Homo sapiens: one gene and its partner. The protein of the gene in region 1 purifies or fractionates together with the protein of each later gene. This does not show direct contact. Each region holds a gene or a part of one and is shown in the gene's direction. Other genes may lie near its edges.

The links. Proteins that work in one complex are often made in the same cells at the same time.
Region 2: the proteins of TM4SF18 (region 1) and TMEM65 purify together in Homo sapiens (affinity purification with mass spectrometry; 2 studies listed by BioGRID and IntAct, with this or other methods). This does not show direct contact.

Annotation. Positions count from the first base shown.
Region 1 is NC_000003.12:149,320,027-149,323,775, reverse strand, and holds part of TM4SF18 (transmembrane 4 L6 family member 18), read left to right. Parts: intron 1-1,339; coding exon 1,340-1,520; intron 1,521-2,283; coding exon 2,284-2,298; 3' UTR 2,299-3,749.
Region 2 is NC_000008.11:124,370,906-124,374,654, reverse strand, and holds the start of TMEM65 (transmembrane protein 65), read left to right. Parts: upstream 1-1,953; 5' UTR 1,954-2,497; coding exon 2,498-2,801; intron 2,802-3,749. UniProt on the Homo sapiens protein: Essential for maintaining proper cardiac intercalated disk (ICD) structure and function as well as cardiac conduction velocity in the heart.

The DNA of each region.
Region 1 (3,749 bases):
TTCCCTAAAAATCTCTGTTATTCTGCTCTTTTTCAATGTGCACTGATTTCATATTGTTCAAACCACATGTTTTACAATCAATTTGTACAGTTAACACAATTATCACAGTGGTCCTGAGGTGGTGTACATCCTCAACTTATGAAGATAACAGGATTAAGAGATTAGAGTAAAAACAGGCATAAGAAATTATAAAAGTATTATTTGGGAACTGATAAATGTCCATGAAATCTTCACAATTCATGTTTCTCTGCCGCGGCTCCAGCCAGTCCCACCATTTGGGGTCCCCGACTTCCTGCAACATTGCAAGTCATCTTGTTTTAAATTGCTAGATGATCTGTGCAGAGCATGTACTAGGAACAGTCTAGAGGAGGGATCTGGAGGGACTCATTTCCCTGGCAGCTGAGATGGAGATAGGGGTAAATGGGGGTATGAGATAGGTTTAGGGAAATTTAACAGAAAGCCACATCTGTATTGTACTTTACAGGTTCCAAACTGTTTGTATACACATTCTTACCAAATATTCACAATAACTCTGGGGTTAGATATTTTAACCCCATTATCAAGATAAGAGTCTGGAGGGCCAGGCGCGGTGGCTCATGCCTGTAATCCCAGCACTTTGGGAGGGTGAGGCAGGCAGATCATGAGGTCAGGAGATCGAGACCATCCTGGCTCACACGGTGAAACCCCGTCTCTACTAAAAAAATACAAAAAATTAGCCGGGCGTGGTGGCGGGTGCCTGTAGCTACTTGGGAGGCTGAGGCAGGAGAATGGCGTGAACCAGGGAGGCGGAGCTTGCAGTGAGCGAAGATGCGCCACTGCACTCCAGCCTGGGCGACAGAGCAAGACTCCGTCTCAAAAAAAAAAAAAAAAGTCTGGAGGCCAGAGGGGTAAAGTTCTTTGCTCAACATCCTGCAGACCCAAATCCAGGAATTCTGATTTCATATTCTGTGCTCTTTCCCATTGGAGACAAGAGCCATTAACAATATAAAGAAATTCTCAGAGTGCCTCTATTTCCTGGAGCATTAGAAAGTAGAAAATAAATAAAGGTGGGGAAAGAGTAAAAAAGAAGGAAGTAGGAAAGAAATGGAAGAGGGAGAAAGAAAAACAAAGAGGCCATGGGGGTGATAAGGCAAGCACAACATTTATAACACACTAAGTATCTAGCTCAGTGCTATGCATAAGATATGTCCAATATGTGTATCTGAATGGTTTTTAAAATGTATTAATTCATATCTAATAACTATATATTTTAGTTATACAGTAATTTCTCAAACATACAAATGCTTGTAGCTTTCTTCCTTGGACCCAGTATGTAGATTTGGCCATGGGTCTCTCTCAGTTTCCTTACAGATTCTAGCATATGGATTCAGTGCCTGGAACCTGCACATGTTGTGGAGTGGAACATCATTTTATTTTCCATTCTCATAACCCTCAGTGGGCTTCAAGTGATCATCTGCCTCATCAGAGTAGTCATGCAACTATCCAAGATACTGTGTGGAAGCTATTCAGTGATCTTCCAGGTAACAGATTCTCATGGGCACCTGTAGCTCATCCATATTTCCCCCACTTCCCAGGATTCAATGAGGCTTTTTGAAAAGACTCTAGAATTCCATCACTTTCCCCCCATTTCTATTGCCCTCATCTTTATTCAAGCTCTAATATCTCAATTTTTTCTGATATCCCAATGTGTCTTGGCTTATCTATAAGGGTTGAATCAACTCAGTAATTGTAAAATCTGCATTTCTTGTTGTATGGTAAGGCTTCATAAGTGTTTTGAATGAGCAAAGTTTTAGTGTTCTACATAGAGATAACTCAAAGCATGATGAAATTTTACCATTTATCAAGAATTTCCCTGTTCATAAGTTAAGCAAAGGCTCAGAACCTTATCTCATTGAAATAACTTCTCTTCTGAATGCTGCTACATTCAACTAATGAACCTTTATCTCGAGTGCATAGGAGTGCTTTTGAAGAAGAAGGGAAATATGTATTTATCCCATTGAAACTACTTCTACTTCGTCTGCTAAAATACTAATGTTAATTTAGTTATGGTTGAAACTGCTATCAAGAAGTCCAGAGTGAAGAAAAATTATGAATTTAGATGGCTTGTATTTTGTTTAACAACAGAATGTGTAATACCTTTCCTAGCAATTTCTAAGAGATGTTTTTTCTGTTCTATCATATTTTGAATATGAAATATAAGTTTAAGTTGCTATCTGGATTACGGATTACTAATCAAGCCAAGTTTATAACTTTAATCACTTTGTTTTTCCTTTTTTCCTATAGCCTGGAATCATTTGAATAAGGACAAAATGTTTTCCATTATCAAGACATGGCCATCTATCTAAATATTATATCAACTGTGTAGACTTGAGGGCAATATTGAAATGATGGTGCTTTCTGCATTTGGTGTTTATTTGTAAAAAATTTGCAGTCCTCACTGCACATGCAAGTATACCACCCTTCCATTTAGTATGTTTTTTAAGTAATATGCATCAGAAACTTCAGAAATACTTCTGCCCTTTGATCAAACAAATCCATTTCCAAGAATCTGTACTAGGGAAGTAAATAAGAATATGAGAGAAACCTTTATGCAAATATGTATATTGCAACATTATTTAATATTCTGGAAAATTGGAAACACCCCAAAATTCTAAACTCAGAGGAAGGATTAAGTAAAGAGTGGTACATACTGTAAATGTTTTCTGATATTAAAAAAAAAATTAAATAAAAAATAAAGAGTACTACATGGTTGTAAAATTACAGTCATTACAAATGATGTTTTTAAAATTATGAATAATGCTACATCAAAAAGCAGGTTACAAATTCATGTTTACTATATAACTATTTAAAGCAAATGAAACACTAATAGTCAAAGTTTAGGATGAAAACTAAATCTAAAAGGAAATATAACAAAATGCCAATTATGCTTGGTTTGGGGCATTGATGACCCTTCTTCCCACTTTTCTATATTTTCCAAGATTTCTTTATTGAATATGTTTTACTATAAATATTTTCTAAACTCATATTTTCACTATTAAAATTTTTTTATTTTTCCAAACTTTAAGGCATATGCTCTTTCCACATTCCTCAACATTATTTGCAAACATCATGAAATGACACTTCCATCAACATTCAATGAGGAAAGTAGTGATATAGATGAGCCAAAAAGAGTTTTATATAAACTTATACAATCTAAACTCTTGCTCTTCCTTTCTGACTCCTGAGGGTGAGTGTGATGGACTAGAAGAGGTAGCCTTAAAATAAGTGAGCAGCTAGGGAACATGCTCAATGGGCAAGAGAAAATGACCACTGACCAGTCAATACCTGTGTCAGGGGGAGTTACCAGTACCTATATTTATTTTTAAAGTAATTAAAAAGTAGAACACTTACAAATTTTCCACCTATACATGCCATGTCTTCCTCGGGGACAGTAGCCACATCTTATATATTTCCCACCATGCATAGGACCCAGCACACAGTGAAGCCAGTAGGCACTCAGTGTTGAATGCTCATACCAGGTTTTCTGCTTCCTGTAGTTACCCTGCTGAGCACTGCTTCCATCACAGGTGCACTGGGCCTCAACACTTCTGCCATTTCCCCATTTGTCTCCTCCATGGACACTGTCAACAATGGTCTGTCAACACCTGCTCTGTGCCAAAGCCAGGGAGTAGGCTGGGGGGATACGGAAGAGAATATCTTTCTCCTTGATGCCTGCTGTGCCAACAGCCCCCTTTAAGCCTTGTTCACAG
Region 2 (3,749 bases), on another chromosome or scaffold:
TTGTCTTTCTGCCTCTATCTAAAGCAGCATTTTCATTTGTTCCATCCTTTTTATCTATGTTCAACCCATATCCATTCATTCTATGTGTAACCTTTCTCATAAGTGACTTGCTTCTACATTTTAGTTTCTCTTGTTTTATAATAGAATTAAATATTCTATAGTAATATAGCAAAAGCATTACAGCAAACCCCAATGAGCAAACATGTATCATATCACGTTTATGATGTCCTCCTATTTATTGACCAAAACAAGTCAAATAGCCAAGCCCACAGTCAATGTAGAGGTGGACCACACAACGGAGCGGATAATAGAAGGTGTAGTTCATTGGGGATCACTACTATAACAATCTAATACTAACACATAGTTAGGAGACGGTTGATCCAGGGATCGAACTTTCCACAGTCTGTCTCTGGAGGCTACACACTAAACTACTATTCTGGAGGTGGTTGGGAATGGGTTCTTACTGAAGAACTTTTTTCAAACCTCACTTCCCAGGTCTGGGGCCTGTGATCCACCCCAGTGAATCAGAATATCTTGGGGGTAGGAAATTGTGGGGGGGATGGGGTGGTACTCCCATGAGCCTGAGACTGAAATAGCTCTGCAGAGGATTCCAGTGCACACTAGGGAATGAAGGGGGTTTCAAAGACAAGGAAGATATACTTTATGCACTCAAAAAGCTTTCATTTCCACAGAGAGCATTCTTAATTGTTGTTATTACATCACAGAGGCATCACCTTGGAATTTAAAAAAGAAGCGATTCCTTTCAATGTTTAAGAGACATCAGTGTTTCTCAAGCTTTCGTGTGTGTTATTACTGGAGGGCTTGTTAAAACCCACATGACTGGGTCCAATGTCTACGTTCTGATTCAGGAGGTGTGAAGTGGGGTCCACTATTTCTCACGTCTAAAAAGCTCTGGGACACACTTTGAGAACCAGAGTTAGAGAAGTAGGAGGCTTTAGTGGTAACAATCCTCCATTATTCAGTTTAATATTCTACTTACATGTAGCACATTTACTACCTACAAGTTTCCGGGCTGAGTGCAGCACTGTTTATGATAAGGATGGGATTTAGATCTTGATTACGCTCCAGCAGATTTATTAAGTGGATTTATTCTCTAAGGGTGCCTAAGCGTCATTAGACAGGTTCAGATAAAGCAGAGATCTCCTCCCTTAGAAGAGATTAGGGACAGCTTAATGAAGTAGGAGACCTTTCACCTGGGCCTTGAAAGATGCCTAGGACCTGGATCAGGGGAAATCGTGGACAATCAAATTATTCTTCCCGCTTTAGCACAGAGACAAAAAAATCACAAGCAACCACTAGGAAAGGTCTATGACATTCTTGCCTCTGCCTCTAGCATTAACAATTTGCATGCCAGCTGCTGGAATCTGAACGGGGAGGACTGTTCTCGTGTCAAGGGCTCAGTCTCAGACCCTCCTTGGGCAGGGGTGGAACTGGCTTCGCTTTCTCTTTGGGGCGCCCAGAGCGACTGCATTAGAGCCGGCCTGCTCGGCCGAAGCGGCGGTGGGCGCTGACTTGGCGAAGGGCGCAGCTGGGGCGCTTCGTTCCGGAGCAGAGCGCCGTGATCCCGTCGGGGCTGGGGTGGCAGCGCAGCTCTCCGCCTGTCCAGAGCGGGGCCGCACGCCGGGGCACCTTTCAGAACAAGCTCCAGATGTGGCCCCAGGTTGGGGGCCGGGTGGCAGCTGTACTACCCTGGCGGGCGAGGGGTCCAGAGCTCGTTTTCCCTATTCCGATCTGTAGGTTTAACGCCAGCACAGGGTGGCGCACCCTACCTCCTTCCACCTTCACGCACCAGCGCGGGAGGGGACGCGTGTGCACGCTCCTCCCCTAGGAGGGAGGGCGGCCCGAGAGCCTGCAGACTGCGCCTGCGCAGCCTCGCTCACACACCTCCCCGCCCCCCCGCACCTCCTTCCCCTTTCGCCCCGCCCCGTTCCCACTTCTGCTGCCGCTAGGGGTAGCGGCGGCGGCGGCGGCTGCGGCTCGGGAGCGCGGCTGCTTTGAGGGCTCGGGAACCTTACAGAGTGGGGACGTGGGGAGGCTAGAGGGTGAGAAAGCTGGCGGGAGAGTAGGGCGGCGCTGGAGGAGGGCGGTGCGTGGCTGACTCATCCTCTGGAAGATCAGACTGACAGAGACACACACTAGCCCGCCCCGCCCGCCCGCGCCGCTCCTCCTCAGCCGGGAGGCGCCCGCCCGCACCGACCGCCCGCCCTCTCCGGGCGCTGTCCGGGCCCGGCCGTCTCAGAGAAAGTTTTTCCCATCGGAGGGGCGGGAGCCGCCGCGGGCCTTTTGGAAAGGAAGTGGGGACGGAACAGGAGGCGAGAGCCGCGCGGGCCCGCGGAGTGCATGGTGCCCGGCGCCTCGGCTGCCTGGCAGGAGGACCTCGGGGCGGGGTCGAGCTGAGCCCAGCTCCTTCTCGCCTCAGCCGCGCCAGAAACCGCCTTGCCGGACGGCCGCGGGGGTCCCAGCTCCTCAGCTCGCCATGTCCCGGCTGCTGCCGCTGCTGAGGAGCCGGACCGCGCGCAGCCTGAGGCCGGGCCCGGCCGCCGCCGCCGCGCCCCGCCCGCCGTCCTGGTGCTGCTGCGGGCGGGGGCTGCTGGCGCTCGCGCCCCCCGGCGGCTTGCCGGGCGGCCCCAGGCGGCTGGGCACGCACCCCAAGAAGGAGCCCATGGAGGCGCTGAACACGGCGCAGGGCGCGCGCGACTTCATCTACAGCCTGCACTCCACGGAGAGGAGCTGCCTGCTCAAAGAGCTGCACCGCTTCGAGTCTATTGCCATTGCCCAAGGTAAGGGGGGCAGGTGGGGGGCGAGCCCGGGGGCCCCGACGCCCTCCTCTTCTCGCCAGCCCACCGGGAGCCCGCTGCGGCCCTGGATCTTGGACCCCCGCCGCCGCCCCCCTTCCGCCCCCCTCGCCTGTCTGGCCCCACGCCTGGGACGGCTGGGGGCGGGGAGACTTTCCGCCGCCCGAGTTTCCCCCAGGCAGGTAGGACGGGCGCGGGTCGTGCCAGGCAGCCGAGGCCAGCGCTAGCTACTTCCTCCCCAGCCTCCGAATCCGGAGCTTCGGCCTAAAATGCCAGTTAACGCTGTTGGGATTGAGTTTTGATTTGCCCCGTGCCTCCCCTCCCCAGCCCTCCTGTCCCTTAGCCCTTGCTGCTTTCTTGCGAGCGTGCACCCGTGCAGGTGGCATGCTGTGCCTGCTCCGAGAAAGTGCTGCAAACCCGCCTGGCAGGAAGAAACTTTTTGAACGGTTATCAAATGAAGACGTATGGGTGGGTAGCCAAAAGAAGGGGTGTAGCTTCGAAAGTCAGGGATGCTCATAGCTGCTTGTTTCCACACATGTCTGATTGCGTTAATTTCAGCAGCCAAAGGAAACATTTTCTCCAGAAATGGAAAGACAGATTCAAGTTAAACTCCAGTTTTGGTTTTTCCCAGAGGTTGAAAGAATGAAATAAATAAGGAGGTATATTTTTTGGAAATCTGTGGCTCTGTAGTAAAAGTCAGACTGATGCTCAAAAGTAATTGGGAATGATGAAAGCAAAACGATTTTTAAACTAGCATGTTAAAATAGGATATTTCTAAAAGGAGTCCAGAATGGGGTAGGGCAGAATTTGAGTCTAGGTGAAAAAGCTAAAAGTTCAGAAAATAAAAAGGATGAAAGGAGCAAACGACTAAAATGGATGTCTTAAAATATTTCTGCCACTTAAATACAGTTATGTAAACAAAACACATTGCTT